Linked DNA regions of Homo sapiens: region 1 is linked to region 2. Evidence: fine-mapped expression QTL. Tissue or cell type: whole blood. Region 2 holds a variant in brackets; the other region holds the start of a gene. All regions are shown on one strand. Distances are between the middles of the regions.

The links. PIP is the estimated chance that this variant, and not a neighbour inherited with it, causes the effect.
Region 1: it holds the start of ANO9, and the variant in region 2 is fine-mapped to the expression of ANO9 in whole blood (INTERVAL, PIP above 0.99).

What each region holds. Positions count from the first base shown.
Region 1 is chr11:437,141-445,207 of GRCh38, forward strand. ANO9 (anoctamin 9) reads right to left here and starts at 4,871. Exons shown (of 23, transcript NM_001012302.3): 1 at 4,781-4,871. The coding sequence starts at 4,786. It overlaps LOC105376506 (a long non-coding RNA gene), which reads left to right. Exons shown (of 5, transcript XR_007062542.1): 3 at 1-1,611; 4 at 2,759-2,840; 5 at 3,345-3,533. It also overlaps the pseudogene RN7SL838P. RefSeq lists silencers at 4,645-4,724, 4,769-5,063 and enhancers at 4,895-5,164, 5,472-6,269.
Region 2 is chr11:469,506-477,572 of GRCh38, forward strand. It overlaps PTDSS2 (phosphatidylserine synthase 2), which reads left to right. Exons shown (of 12, transcript NM_030783.3): 3 at 4,390-4,472. Among named protein-coding and RNA genes, the nearest start is that of PTDSS2, 23 kb to the left of the region's middle. RefSeq lists enhancers at 1,829-2,352, 2,353-2,875, 7,388-8,067. The variant G/C (reference allele first, on the strand shown) is at 3,071.

The DNA of each region.
Region 1 (8,067 bases), 32 kb before region 2:
CCCCATTGTGCACTGCGCATGCAGGGATCTCGGCTGCTCCTTATGAGAATCTAATGCCTGATGATCTGAGGTGAGACGATTTCATCCCAAAACCATCCCACCACACCCACAGCTGTGGGAAAATTGTCTTCTGCGAAACTGGTCCCTGGTGCTGAAAAGGTTGGGGAGCACTGCACTAAGGCATCCGACGCCCCGGTCACAGGGAGATGGGCTCAGGTAGACACCATCTGAGCACCCAGTGCCACACTGCAGCCTCCCTGCGGGGGGAAGTTCTTGCCCTAGTTGGCCCACGGGGCTCACCTGGCCCTTCTGTCCTATCCTAGACCAGTAGTTCTTCCTGCCTCAATCAACCCTTCCTCTGACTCCCTCCTTGGCCTTCCCGACAGCCCACGGACAGATACCTGCACTCAGGCGTGGCCTGCCACACTGAAACTTCTCCCCCGTCCTGGGTTAGAGGAGAAACCTTCATCCTCCGACAGATATGCAGGAAGGGGCGTGGCACCTGCCCAGGCAGGAGAGGCACCTCTGTCTCAGCGCAGAGGGCAGCCTCCCTGGGGGGGACTGGTGGTCTGGGGGACGTGGGCATCACGGCTCCAGCTCTGCAGCTTGCCTCCGTAGGGGCCCGGGAAGTGTTGTGTTGGAGGGATTCATGGGAGAATGGCCCCTCACATGCCTGGCTTCAGACCCAGGATGAGGGTCCCTCCTCTGCCCAGAACCCCAGCTCCTCTGGCAGAGGCTGAAATTAGAGACCCCCTCACATCAGCCTGGGCCGAAAGTTGAAAGCCGGCAGGATAAGCCCAGACCCCTGAGAAGGAAGGGACGAGGCAGGGACCCCAGACCAGGCAGGACTTTCGGAGAAGCCTGGGAGAGGGGACTGTCCCTGGGGAACATTCTCAAAGGTGGGGGTGGGAAGCCATCGTTCACCCCAGAAATGAGGCACAGAAACCCCCTCCCCACCAAAGACACCGTGCAGCACTGGGGTGATGACCCCACGCCTCTGCAAACAGCAGGATCAGCCTCCCCTGGGGAATGGGGTGCAAAGCCCCCATCACTGACGTGGGCTGACAGGGAGCCCTCCCCCCAGGGCAGAGCTACACGCACACCTGGGGCGTGCCAGCCCCTGGCTGCCCTTAGCTGCTCCCTCGGACAAGGCAGAAGCACTAGGGCTGCCAGGTGTAGCCCCCGCCGACACACACAGCCAGACAGGTGGAGTCCCCCCAACACACACAGCCAGACAGGTGTAGCCCCCCCCCGACTCACACAGCCAGATAGGTGTAGCCCCCCTGACACACACAGCCAGACAGGTGTAGCCACCCCCTGACACACACAGCCAGGCAGGTGTAGCCCCCCCAACACACACAGCCAGACAGGCCTCAGGCTCCGAGACTCTGCTGCAGAACACTGGGCCCACCAGCCTCCAGGACCGGGCCGTCCATCTGTCCATCCGTCTCCAGGGCCAGTGTTTACGGAGCCACACCCACCGGCCCATCCCCCGGGCCACAGCCACCAGCCTACAGGACCAGGCCATCCATCTGTCCATCCGTCTCCAGGGCCAGTGTTTACGGACCACGGGAGCCTGGCTTCTCCACACCACCCTCGGGGTCTTCACAGGTGAGGGCTGGACCACCTGAAGTCACCTCCACTTCCAGCCATGCAGACTGTTCGGTTTATCCACAGTGAGATGTCTGGGACCCCCATGTCCCCAGTCCATGGGCCCCACCTCCGGGAAACTATGTATGGGCCCACAGGCTTCCAGCTCCCAGGGTAGGGACAGGGGCTGTCCCTACACACTCAGTCTGAGGGCCTCTGAAGCTTCAGCCAGCCTTGCCATCTGCAAACCCAGAGAGGGAGGCCGGCTCTGGGTGGACAGCCGGCCAGGCCCTAGCTCTGACGCCACCGAAACACCCCAGGCCTCAGTTTCCTCGTCTGTACAACAGGGTGTCCTCACCCCAGCCCCCAGGTCACCTCAGCGACGTGCAGACACAGGAAGAAGGTGGACAGAACCACACACTGTTCTCCCCCATCCTTCCTGTCCCACAGCCCTCACAGGTGACACACCCAGTACTCCAGGGCCCCAGGGAGTTTGTGGGGGGCTCTTGGCACCCCCATTGTGGGCATAGGCCAGCGTCCAGTGGGCAAGCCCCTGGTTCCCAGTGAGGAAGCTTCTGGAGACACTGTAGCCTGCAGGAGACCCTCCCTCCCAAGGGCTGGAGTGTGAGGACAGAGCTGGGGGTCCTGCCCATCCATCCTCTTCCCAGTCCAGCCTCCAGGTTGGGGGCAGGCAGAGGAGATGGTTGTGCAGATATGACCCCACCCTACTCCTGAGAGGCCTGGCCAGGGGGTCCCATGACGCACATCCCCCCAGCTGTGCATGAGAAGGAGCAGGCCTGGCCAGGGGGTCCCACGACGCACATCCCCCCAGCTGTGCATGGGAAGGTGTTTGGGCCTCATCTCCTCCTGAGGTCACGTCAAGCCTCTTGGCCGGTGCCCTGAGCCCTCTGGGATCTGGCCCTTGAGAACTTTACAGTTTCGTCATCCACAGAGGGTCCCCTTCTGCCCCACCGCAGTCCCAAGCATGGAGAGGCCCACCTTGTGAGCCACAGCGTCTCGCCTCTGCCCAGCCCACGCATCCTCTGAGCAAACCCTCCCCAGCTGGCTCTGCGCTCCTGAAGCCAGTCTTCTGCCCACCCCCCGGCCCCTCCAGCTGTCCAGTCTGTCATCTGTCAGTTCACCCATCCGTGTGCCCGTCCATCCCCAGACACTGACGGAGCGACCTGCGTGCAGCCCTCCCAGGCAGTGCGTGGCGTTCGTGGACGCAGGGGCGGGGGCCTACTTGGCAGGTGAGGAGGCATGGAGCTTGGCATTGTAGGGCAAGAGGTTGGCAAAAGGTGAGAAAATGGGGGCAGCATTCCCGGGAGAAAGAACATGTGTGGGCACGCCCTGAGAATCAGGGTGCAGTTGGTGTCTGGGACTCAGCAGTCAGCACCTCCCAGGGACTCAGCACTCAGCACCTCCAAGGAGGACTTGGTAGCTACTACTCCTGGTGACTCAGCACTCGGCACCTACGGAAACTGAGTCCAGGGACTCAGTCCTTGGTACTTCAGCTTTGCAGAAGCATAAAGGGCAAGAAGGGAGCTGCCAGAAGGGGAGGCTGGAGGTTGGCAGAGGCCAATCAGGGGAGGCTGCTAGGCTTCTTGGCCAAATGGAGAGCTTGGACTTCAGCAGGGGGCAGTGGGGAGCCATGGAAGGGGTTAGAGCAGAGGAAAGGCACGCCCAGATCCAGCCTGGAGCTGGGACTAGCAAGTCCTCCCCATGTCTGCAACTGTCCTTTTTGATCACCACAGGAGTTTTGACCTGCTCCGTTTCCGACCTGGACCGGTTCACCCCTCCTTAGGCAACTTGGTGGTCCCCTGCTCCTGGGAGGTCACCATACTGATGTGCGGACAGCCAGTCAGCCTAACACACTACAGCCCAGAACTCCCAGGCTCGAGCAACCCTCCTGCCTCAGCCTCCGGAGTAGCTGGGACCGCAGGCTCATGCCACCACGCCCGGGTTCCAGCAGTCCTCCTGCCTCAGCCTCCCGAGTAGCTGGGAGCGCAGGCACGCGCCACCACGCCCGGGTTCGAGCAGTCCTCCTGCCTCAGCCTCCTGAGTAGCTGAGACTGCAGGTGCATGCCACGACGCCCGGGTTCAAGCAATCCTCTTGCCTCAGCTTCCGGAGTAGCCGGGACCACAGGCATGCGCCACCAGGCCCGGCTGCAACTGTCTTTTTTGAAGGACTGATGCTCTCACTTCCAACAAACCAGGTGCTGCTTCTCCCAACCCAACCCCTGGCCAGCCCCAAGTCTCTCCTCTAACCCCCAGCATGGGAGGAAGGGGCTGGCAGAGGGGACCCTGAGCTCAGGCTAAGGGGCATCAGGTGCTGGGCTGAGCAGCCAGGGTGTCAGACCTGGATGTGGAGGGCCGAGGAGAGCCCTGGGCGGAGATGGAGCAAGAGGCCGCCGGCGCAGCCCACACGTGGAGGCCCTGGCAGGCCGAGAGGGAGGCTGGTTTCACTCCACACCTCACCACTGCCTCCTCCCTGGGCCGACCAGGTGCTGACCTGCCCAGGTGTTGGCCCTGGCCCCAGGTGACCTCTTCACTGGCAGAGGGGAGAAAGGATGTCTTTCTACGTGTTCACCTGCACTCCCTCCCCCAGAATCGGAATCCAGCAGCAGCAGTCAGCGCCCACCCCCAGAATCGGAATCCAGCAGCAGCAGTCGGCCCCCACCTGTGCTGGGCGGGGTCCTTGGGGAGCAGAGAGCCCACAGCCCGCCGGCCACTCTGCAGCTCCCAACCCTGGGGCAGCCTGCCTGGTGCCCACAGCCCGCTCCCCCTTAGGGGCCAGCTGCAAGGCAAAGCTGCCAGGTCTGGGGTCCTCAGCAGCAGCCCCCGCCTCGGTGGGCAGGCCCTCTCCATCTCGTGTTCAGGACTCTGGTAGAGGTTCCTGGCCCCACACACTAGCTGAGAGCCCAGCCCTGGTGCCCTCAGAATCCCGGGCTGGAGGGAGGAACGCCGCCCGCCTCCAGCACTTCCAACCCCCAGCGTGCCCCAGGAGTCCAGGAGGCAGCTTAGCTGAGCCGGGCGGTCACCCTCGCCTGACCGGGCAGCCTGCAGGGACCCCCCCCACACACACAGGCGCCTTCCAGGTGGGGCTGGCGGGGGGCTGGGGCCGGGGGCCCCAGGTGTGGGCGTGGCTGGGGGCCTTGAAGGTGTGGACCCTTTTGAGCGCAGGACTCACCTGCATGCTGGCTGTGGCCGGAGTTCCAGCTGGGGTTTGGCGGCCAGGAGAGTGGCTGCCAGCGGCGGGTGCTCCTACCTGACTTCCGCGTGGGGCTCGCCCCTCCCTCCTCCTCCTCCAGCGTCCTGCAGCTGCCGCGCCTGGGTGTAGTCGGGGCGGAGCCAGCATCCAGGCCAGGAGAGTACCCCAGCCCCTGGAGCCTGGGACACCTTCCTGGAGCCCAGATGGCGGGTCAGGGGCCAGAGGGGAATTCCTAGGCTGGAGTTCCCGGGAAGGGGGTTTCCACTGTGAGATGGGTCTCATGACACCTGGTCCTAGGGGGAAGCAGGATGGCACAGAGCCCCTGACAGAGCCAGCACCAACGCCCCCACTTGCCTTGCCTCTCTCACCCCCGCTCACACATCCCCATGTTCCCTCCAAAAGCATCCCACCCCAGGCCATGCCCCCCACCCCGGGCCACGGCCCCCCACCCCGGGCCACGGCCTCCCCCACCCCGGGCCACGGCCTCCCCCACCCCGGGCCACGGCCCCCCACCCCGGGCCACGGCCCCCCACCCCACAGGTCCAGTGCTGATTCCCTTAGAGGAGAAACTGGGGCAAGGAGGACTGACGACGAGACAGACTCCCAAAGAAACTGTCTGCTCCTACCCAAGCCCCTGCTTTCTGGGCCCCACTGGGGAATCCTTGGAGTCCTGGGGACACGTGGCTGGCCCCAGGCTGTGTAGACAACGGAGGAGGAGCCCTCCACCCCGCATCCCCAGTCCCTGAGCACGTTCTGTGCAGCCTGGGCTGAGGGCGGCAGCTGGGCAGGCTCTGGGTGTCCTGAGAGTGACCGTCCAGTGGAGTGCCCTGAGGAGGGAAGGGCTGCGGGGAGTGGGGGCCCAGGCCGTGGGCTGGCACACATTATCTGCAGCGTGTGTGGCGAGGAGTCTGCTTCTGAAAGCTGCTGCAAAGCTGGGGAGGCAGGGCCAGAGCTCCGCAGGCAGACGCTGTCACACGGAACGGCTCCAGGCCCACTGGGGCCAGAGCACCCCCCGGCAAGCCCAGCAGCCCTCTGCTGTGGTCCAGGCCCAGGGCCAACAGTCGGCTCTGGTTTCCCCAAGGGGTAACATGGTCCCACCCATGTTTCTCCTTGGGGGACCTCCTGGCAGGCTGGGATGGCAGCAGAGACCACAGCTTTGCCACTTTGGCAAAGACAAGCGAGTGAAGTGGTGGCCGAGGACCTGTGAGCTCAGATGGGGCAAATCCAAATGGAACACATTCAGATCTGTGTGCAAAATGGTGGTGGCTTAAACAAGCTGTGTATTTCTCCTATAAGTGAAATCTGGAGTTGGCCGGGCGCAGTGGCTCATGCCTGTAATCCCGGCGCTTTGGCAGGCCGAGGCGGGTGGATCACCTGAGGTCAGGAGTTCGAGACCAGCTTGCCCAACATGGTGAGACCCCGTCTCTACTAAAAATACAAAAATTAGCCAGGTATGGTGGTGCACGCCTGTAATCCCAGCTACTCGGGAGGCTGAGGCAGGAGAATCGCTTGAACCTGGGAGGCAGAGGTTGCAGTGAGCCAAGATCACACCACTGCACTCCAGCCTGGGTGACAGAGTAAGACTCTGTCTTTAAAACAAAGCAAAACAAAAATCTGGAGTTGGCTAGTCCTGGACTAGTATGGCCGAACTATAGTCATCAGAGACCCAGAATGCCTTCAGCTTGTTGCTCTGCCACCTTAAATACATGGTCCCAGCACCTGGTCCAAAATGACTGCTCAAGCTCCAGTCATCACATCCACGTTCCAGCCAGTGGGAAGAGGAAAGGGCGAAGGAGGGAACCTCACCCTTCACATGGTTAGTCACGTGACCACACTCTATGGCAAGGAAGCCTGGGGCATGTGAGCTCTTTTCCCATGGAAGAAAGCAGGGTAAGCGGGAGAGGGAACATCCGGCAGTCTCACCAGGGGGTCACAGCTGCCAAGTTAGATCTAGTTCAGAAACAGAATGTGCAAGGCTTGTTGAGTATGGGAGGAACTCACACGCAAGATCCACGTTCCCAGCCCCTGCACCGTCCGTGACGGGTGTCGCTCCCCAGTCCCCAGCTCAGCCCGCTCAGGGGTCTCTGTGCTCATGTTTTCACACTGTGTTAAAACAATCTTCGGCTGGGTGCGGTGGCTCATGCCTGTAATCCCAGAGCTTTGGGAGGCAGAGGTGGGTGGATCACGAGGTGAGGAGTTCAAGACCAGCCTGGCCAAGATGGTGAAACCCCATTTGTACTAAAAATACAAAAAATTAGCCAGGCGTGGTGACAGGCGCCTGTAATCCCAGCTACTCAGGAGGCTGAGGGAGGAGAATCATTTGAACCCGGAGGGTGGAGGTTGCAGTGAGCCAAGATCGTGCCACTGCACTCCAGCCTGGGTGACAGAGTGAAACTCCGTCTCAAAATAAATAAATCAATAAATAAATAATAAAACAATCTCCACGTTTTCAGTGTGTTAAAACAATCTGCTAGCAGGTCATGTGAGTTACTCAGGCGCCACTTCAAGTGTCCACACAGCTGCTGTGCTCTCTTTCAATGACTTTTTCAGCATTCCCAGTTGCGTTGCAGAAACACTGTTCCTCCTCCCCCCACACCTTCCGTGGGCGTCACCAGAGGAATCCTCAGTCACTTCCAGAGTCCTGGCTGTAAAGCCAGCATATCCAGCTTCAGGGGAGAGAGCTCAGCGAGGCGGCTGCATTGGCCGCTGGCCTCACCCAGCGTGGAAGTTCCCTTACGATCAGTGAAGGGTGGAGAGGGAGGGGGACCCCACCCAGTCCTATCTGGACAGAAAACCAGTACAGCCCTTTCAGAAAGCAATTCAGCTATAATACGTATTAAGAGCCTTAAAATTGTTTAGACTTTGGTTCATTAATCTAACTTTTTGTAAACTGTTCTAAAAAAATGCAAAATAATGAAAATATGTATATATGTCATTTGCAGCAAAAATTGTAAACCACCAATGTTCAACAATAGGAAAATATCAGCGAAAACATGGTATTCATATTTATATGCTGATTAAGCAGACATTAGAAGTTATACTTTCAAAGAGTTTTTGAGAACATAGGAAAATGCTTATGTTATACTGCTAAGTAAAAAAAACAGACTACAAACATATAAAAATTTTTCCTAGATTAAAAGAGATTTATTTATTCTTTTTATTTTTTGAGACGGAGTCTTGCTCTGTTGCTCAGGCTGGAGTGCAGTGGCAGGATCTCGGCTCACCACAACCTCCGCCTCCTGGGTTCGAATGATTCTCCTGCCTCA
Region 2 (8,067 bases):
TGGGTAATCGGAGGGAGGAGGAGGGGAGTCTCCGGGTAATCAGAGGGACGAGGTTGGAGTGGCCGCTGTGATGGTGGATTACCATTGCACGTTTAGCCCAGAAGAGACAAAGATGGTTAAACAGTGTGTGCGCAGTGGTTAATGGATACACACAGATCTTGTTGCTGTACAAGCTGAGGGGGCCTAGAACCAGCTATGCTTGCAGCAGTGAGCACACCCAGGCCCAGATCCTGGTTCCTAGTGCCCTCCAGTCCACGGGGCCAGGGCTCTGAGGAGAAATGGCTGATTCCAGCACCGGGGCAGGAAATGCCCAGGATCAGCTGATCCTGGCAGTTCCAGAAAGTGAGGAGCTCTGTAAACAAAACCCCACAGTCACGGGATTGCGTCCCAGTGAAAGAGCCTCCCAGTGGCCAAAGAGCAACAAAATAATAAAGTAGTATTAGAATATAACCCAGAGTAGAAAATAAACATCCACGAGCCCATAGTGATATAAGTGATTGAGTAAATAAACAGAGGGAACAAGACCAACCTTCCCTGCAGAAGGTTTTCAGTAAATGAGGTAGATCCCCCCATTCCAGGAGCTGGCGTGAGCTCCCGGCACCGCTGTGCGCTGCGCGTGGTGACCTGACCTCCTTCCTGGGCGTGCAGCACGGAGAGGGCAGTGGGAGGAGGACGCTGCAGCCGAGGTGCCCGCAGACACCCCCAAGCCCAGTGGTCAGGTCAGCATGCACTGGTCATGTTCATGGCGTGGCCGACGGGGAGGCTGCTGCCCCATCCTCCCAACCCCGACGACCCCAGCCCGGCCATGCAGAGGCATAGTCGACCATCTCACTAAGGAACATTCCACAGAATTCCTGACCAGGCCTCCTCCAAACCATCCAGGTCATCAGAGACAAGGAGAGTCTGAGAAACCGTCCCAGCCTCGGGGAGCCTGAAGAGACAGAACGAGTAGATGCCATGTGGCTTCCAGGAAGAGATTGTTGGGGGCGGGGCAGGGGGAAGGACATCAGGGGAGAGCGAAGGAAGTGTAGGCCTCAGCAGCTGTGTGGCAGCACTGGCTTATTTATTTTTTATTTTTTATGTTTATTTTATTTTATTTTTTGAGACAGAGTATCACTGTGTCACCCAGGCTGGAGTGTAGTGGCGTGATCTCGGCTCACTGCAACCTCCGCCTCTCGGGTTCAAGTGATTCTCCTGCCTCAGCCTCCCGAGTAGCTGGGATTACAGGTGCCTGCCACCACATCTGGCTAATTTGTGTATTTTTAGTAGAGATGGGGTTTCACCATGTTGGTCAGGCTGGTCTCGAACTCCTGACCTTGTGATCCGCCTGCCTCAGCCTCCCAAAGTGCTGGGATTACAGGCGTGAGCCACCGCACCCAGCCAGCACCGGCTTATTAATGGTGAGATGTTAATGGGAAAACTGGGCCTGTGAGATATGGGAGCTTTTACTATTTTTACAATAATTCTGTAAATCTAAAACCATTCTAAAATTAAAAATTTATTTTTAAAATGCAATATATTTGTTTTCCTTTTAAAGCACTTCCCTCATTCTTACCCAACGGGACACACCTTCTCAAGTACTTAAGTAATTCTTTTTTTTTTTTTTTTTTGAGACTGAGTCTTGCTGTCACCCAGGCTGGAGTGCAGTGGCGCGATCTCAGCTCACTGCAACCTCTACCTCCCAGATTCAAGTGATTCTCCTACTTCAGCCTCCCGAGTAGCTGGGATTACAGGCGTCTGCCACCACACCTGGCTAATTTCTTATATTTTTAGTAGAGACAGGAGTTTCATGTCGGCCAGGCTGGTCTCGAACTCCTGACCTTTAATGATCCACCTACCTCAGCCTCCCAAAGTGCTAAGATTACAGGTGTGAACCACTGTGCCCGGCAAGTAATTCTTATGAACAAATTAGCCTTATAAAGTTGTCATAAACATTATGTGATGTGTGGCCAGGTTAGAGTCCTGTGTGACCCGGTCTGAGCTGGCCTCTGGGCAGCATGCCGTGTGGGGGCTGCCACAAGCTGATTCAGGGAGCACCGGCCTGGGGTGACGCACGCCTGTCGGGCGGAGGGCGGCCTGGGGTGACACGGATGGTGGCCTGGGATGACACGCGCCTGTCAGGCGGAGGGCGGCCTGGGGTGACACGCACCTGTCTGGTGGATGGCGGCCTGGGGTGACGCGCGCCTGTCGGGCGGATGGTGGCCTGGGGTGACGTGGATGGCGGCCTGGGGTGACGCAGATGGTGGCCTGGGGTGACGCGGATGGCGGCCTGGGGTGACGCAGATGGTGGCCTGGGGTGACGTGGATGGCGGCCTGGGGTGACGCGGATGGTGGCCTGGGGTGACGCGGATGGTGGCCTGGGGTGACGCGCACCTGTCTGGTGGATGGCGGCCTGGGGTGACGCGCACCTGTCGGGCAGATGGTGGCCTGGGGTGACGTGGATGGCGGCCTGGGGTGATGCAGATGGCGGCCTGGGGTGACGCGGATGGCGGCCTGGGGTGACGCGGATGGCGGCCTGGGGTGATGCGCGCCTGTCGGGCGGATGGTGGCCTGGGGTAACGCGGATGGCGGCCTGGGGTGACACAGATGGTAGCCTGGGGTGACGCGGATGGCGGCCTGGGGTGACGTGCGCCTGCACCGGGAGCAGCTTCCCTTGGCCAGTGCCCATGTTCCTCTTTTCATTTTTATCTTTTCTGGGGAGGGTAGGGGGACGTTTTACTGTCTTTCCACTGAATGTTATGACCCTCCCCACGCCCCTTGGAGGCACAGCTGAGGTGGGGCCTATGTCTGGCTCCAGGGGGCCCTGAAAGGTACTTTTTACACCTCCCACCCCTCAGCACTGAGAGACCTCGGGAGGGGTACCGGTGACAGGGACGCGGGCCCCACCTTGCTGAACCCAGCAGCGAGGGCATCTCTGCCTCTGTCCCTGGAGGCTGACAGCGGTAGTGTGGGAGCTGGGGCCTGGGTGGAGACCGGGTCAGAAACTCAGGTTTCGCCTGGGTGGGCCATGAATGTCCTGCCGAGGGTGAGACCCTCAGGGCTCTGGGTGGAGAGCAGCACCTGCCCAGAA[G/C]CAGTAGACCCTTGTCCCGGCTGCACCAGGGGCCAGCGACCTTGTGCCCTCCTCCATCCTGCAAGCCTCGGGCGGTGCTTGGCCTCACCTGCCTCTGTCTACTCAGGACTTTGAGGCCAGGCACTCCTGCAGGCAGAGAGGGGAATTTCTGAGACTGAAGTTGTTACTGGGTATTTTTTAACAGCGCTGTCTTAAAAAATAGATAGCGTGTCTCTGTGGCCCCGTCTATTCTTGCGGCCACACGAACGTGCGTGTGTGTGTGCAGCTTCCCTCACGGCAGCCAAAACCCAGAGGCCGCCCAGCGTGCGAACACGCCAAGGTGTGACTGTCGGCACGGCACTGCCGAGCCGTGGGAGGGACTGGGTGGTGCAGCGGCCAGTGGATCTCAGACCCTGAGCTGAGCACGACTGGAGAGGATGGGTGCATCCGAGCGTCTGCAGAGCACAGAGCGCGTCCGCAGAGCGGGTCCACACCTTGGGTGCAGCGAGCGGATGTGAGCAGTGTGCCTGTGACCAGGGCTGTCTGCACATCCGCCGGCCTAAGCTGCTGCTCACCGAAACCCACTGGGACTCTGGCTGAGGCCGGCCCCAAGGAGCTTTGCCGAGGAGGGAGCACCTTGCCCCTGCCCAGAGCGGTCCCTCGCATCCTCCTTCCCGTGAACCTGCATCTTTGGTTGCAGTTACAGCTCTCACGCTTCCATCTTATGAATCACAGGAGTCCCGTTGGTTTTGGATGAGTTGACACCAAAAAGACACAGGAGCTCTCTAGAGACACTTCCTGGGGGTCCTGCCGCGTTGGAGCAGGGAGGCAGTAGCTCCTGACGCCTTCCCTCCTACGTGGGCTTTGTGATCACTGATGGTCACATGCGGGGCATTCGGTGGCCTCTGTGTAGAGCCAGTGTCTTCCTGATGTGACACTGGGAACCACCAGCAGCCCAAGCACAGGGACCTTCTCCTGGCCACTGGGCGGGCTGCAAATGTGAGGGCGAATGTTGGGTGCAGGGTGGTGGAGGTAGCTGGGCCTTCCCTGCCGCGGAGGAGGCAAATGTGAGCGCGAATGTCCAGCCCAGGGTGGTGGAGGTAGCTGGGCCTTCCCTGCCGCGGAGGCGGCAAATGTGAGGGCGAATGTCCGGCCCAGGGTGGTGGAGGTAGCTGGGCTTTCCCCGCGGCGGAGTCGCCCAGCTCTGCCCGAGGCCCCTTCCTCCCGCCCCAGCATCAGGGGCTGTTCCACAATGGGTGTCTGGGGGTCCCTGCAGCCTCCCACCTCCCTCCTGGGAGAAGCCTGCACACACTGAGGGGCTGTTTGTTCTTTATTTGCAGAGGTATTGTGGCCAGTATTTTGGTTTTCTTATGTTTTGGAGTCACACAAGCTAAAGACGGGCCATTTTCCAGACCTCATCCAGGTAACTTGCCATTTCCTTTTCCGTGTGCCCCTGTGGCATTTCTGTTCTGAGCGGCCACTCTGTGTCTGTGCTGCTGGGTGTGAGTGTCCTGTCCTCCCCTCCGCCTGGCCCCTCCCCGAGGCCTCCGAGGCCACTTCCCACATGGACAAGGGCGTGGGGTTCTGAGCTGGCCGTGTGCTCCTCCTCCAACCACCGAGGGTCTCTCCAGGCCTTCTCTGGCCCTTTCACTCTTCCCTGTCCAGGGCTCTCCAGCCCTTCTCTTCCTGCTTCTGCCTCCTCTTTCCACAGACCAGAGTGGCCGAGGGCTCCAGATGGGGCTATGAGGCCGGGGGCAGGTGGGTGAGGGCACCAGATGGGGCTGTGAGGCCAGGGACTGTGGGCTCTAGGTGGGACTCTGAGACCAGAGGGGGCGGGGGTGGGTGAGGGCGCCAGATGGGGCTGTGAGGCCATGGGCGGGTGGGTGAGGGCTCCAGATGGGGCTGTGAGGCCATGGGCGGGTGGGTGAGGGCTCCAGATGGAGCTGTGAGGTGCCGCCCACCCCCTGCCCTTGAAGTGGTTGCCCAGCGCACTCTGCCTCAGCCACCACCCCACCTTATGGCCCTGAGTTCTAACAAACCCTCGTGGGCCAGAGCATCCCGCCAATCTCAGTGTACTCTGTCCCCCAAGTCCCACCCCAGGAAGGCGGGCTCAGGCTTCTGTAGGGTCGGTTGTTTCCCCTGAGTGGCCACACGAAGTAATTAGAAACATTTTCTGTTTCAACAGGAGTATGTATTATAGAAAATTTCGAAAATACAAAGATACTTAAAAATAAAGCTACCCACAAATAATAACCACTGTTAAATTTTCACGTGTTTGTGATACGGACATATTCACTTGTTTGTGTATACGGACATATTCACGTGTTTGTGTGTGCGGACATATTCACACGTTCGTGTACGGACATATTCACGCGTTTATGATACGGACATAATCATGTCTTTGTGTATATGGACATGTTCACGCGTTTGTGATACGGACATATTCACGAGTTTGTGTGATACGGACATATTCACGTGTTTGTGTGATACGGACATTCACGCGTTTGTGTGATATGGACACATTCACGTGTTTGTGTGTGGGACATATTCACGCGTTTGTGTGATACGGACATATTCACGCGTTTGTGTGATACGGACATATTCACGCGTTTGTGATACGGACATATTCACGCGTTTATGATATGGACATAATCACGTCTTTGTGTATATGGACATGTTCACGTGTTTGTGTGTACGGACATATTCACGCGTTTGTGATACGGCCATATTCACGCGTTTGTGTGATACGGCCATATTCACGCGTTTGTGTGATACGGACATTCACGCGTTTGTGTGTAGGACATATTCACATATTTGTGTGTATGGACATATTCACGCGTTTGTGATACAGACATATTCACGCATTTGTGTGTACAGACATTCACGCGTTTGTGTGATACGGATATATTCACGCATTTGTGATACAGACATATTCACGCGTTTGTGTGATACGGCCATATTCACGTGTTTGTGTGATACGGACATTCACGCGTTTGTGTGTAGGACATATTCACGCGTTTGTGTGTACAGACATATTCACAGCCTCGAAAGAGTGGAATCCTGAACACGTGGCTTTGTGCATTCTCCACTTCAGGTTCAACGACTTTAGTCATTTCCTTACTAATTTTTAAAATGACTTTAATCATTTAGGTTTAAATGACTTTAGTCATTTCCTTACTAATTTTTTAACACCCGAAATTTTAATGACTGCTTGTTTGCTGTCATTAGAATGTACTACATTTAACTAACTTATTTAAGCCATAATATTGTATATTTAGAGAGTTTCCAGTTTTATTTTAATAAACTAGGCTGTGGTGAATTTTTTCACGTATGCTCTGTGTAAATATCTGATTATTCATTTAATAAAATGTCCCAGAAGTGAGTATTGAATTAAAGGGCATACACAGTTTAAGCCTGTGATATGTGTTATAAAATTGGCCTCCAGGAGAGCAGTGTCTGCCCCAGGGTCAGTGCCATGGTGGTGAGTGAAGCTCCCCCACCCACAGAGGCCCTGAGCAGGGAGCCGTCCGGTGACCCAAGCAGGCTGGTCTTGCTGGCCCCTTCCTTGCCCAGGGCCTTGAGAGAGGGCTCCTTGAGTGCCTGGCAGGCCACTCTGCTGGCTGACAGCTGTGTGGGAAGGGCCCAGGGCCCTGTCTGCCCAGCCGGCTGAGCACAGACGGTCTTGCCTCCAAGGGGTTTGGATTCCTCAGCAGAGCCGTGGAAGGTGCAGTGATGGTGAGAAACTGCCCGTCACACAGTGAAAAGCCTGGCGCCGTGACGGTGAGAAACTGCCCGTCACACAGTGAAAGGCCTGGCGCGGTGATGGTGAGAAACTTCCCGGCACACAGTGAAAAGCCTGGTGCAGTTACGTGCTTGTTGGGTGGATTTGGAGGGAAGAAAAGCTGCCGGAAGCTCAACCCATGGCCGTCCTTGCTTGGAGATGCACCAAATCCCTCCTGGGTGGCGGCATCACTGGGGACTGGGACGCAGCCGTGAGTGGGACAGACTGGTCAGCAGGCAGCAGCTTGTCCTGGCATGTGACCCCTGGCACAGGGAGAGACTCCCGGGAGACCCTCAGCTCTGAGCAGTCAGGAGCTCTGGCGCAGGTCACCTGGCGGGATGTGGAGCATCTGGGCCTGAAGGTCTTGGCGCTTCCAAAAGCTCCGGCCGCGGCGTCTCTTGAGTTGTGGCTCGTCCCCTCCCACTGGGCAGGACTGGGGGTTCCTGGGGTGTTCAGTTTTTAGTCTGAGCTCTGCTCTACCTTTCTTCTGTCCGTTTAGTTTGCTTGGCATAAATTCCATATTACTTTGCCAATCTTCGATTTATTGACGGGGAAGCCTGTCCTGGAGCCACCTTCTTCCACGCGTCTTGTTAACTTGGGGGCCGGCAGGGAGCCCTCAACTCTCTGCAGTCACAACACATTGAAGTGGACAAGTGATGAGTCCTGTGCAGCGGAGGCTCTGGGTGGGGGGCAGGGAGAAGGGCTTTCTCCAGAAAGGTGGTCCCTGTGGGCTCTGCCCACCTTCACACTCCCCTGGGTCTGGCCCAGGAATGCCCAGTCCGGCAGCTGTAGCCGTAGCCATTAGTGACTGGGCCTCATGAGGAGGAGTGGAAATGGGCCCAGCCCGGCCATCTGGGGTGCTGCTTTCTTTGGAAACTTGAGTTGGCTGCAGCTCTGAGGGAGGTGGAACGTTCTGGGCCACTGAGGAGGGCATCCCTCCTGTGTGAACGGCATTTTCTTCCTGGCTCCCTCTGAAGGCTGTGTCAGCCACAGCATTTCCAGGGCTGCTGAGGCTGCCTGTCTGTCTTTCCCCTCTGGTGTGATGTTTAGAAAGACAAATGAGTGCTGGGGCCTGGGGGGTGGCCCTGGGGTCAGGGAGGTGCTGGAGCTGCTCCGGGAAGCGACCCAGGAATGCAGACCAAGGGCCTGCTGGGTATTCCGGGGCGGCAGCCTGGTGCTGGTCGGGTGGGAAGCGTGAGTGGGGAGAGGAGTCCGAGATGCCACCTTTCTGATCTGG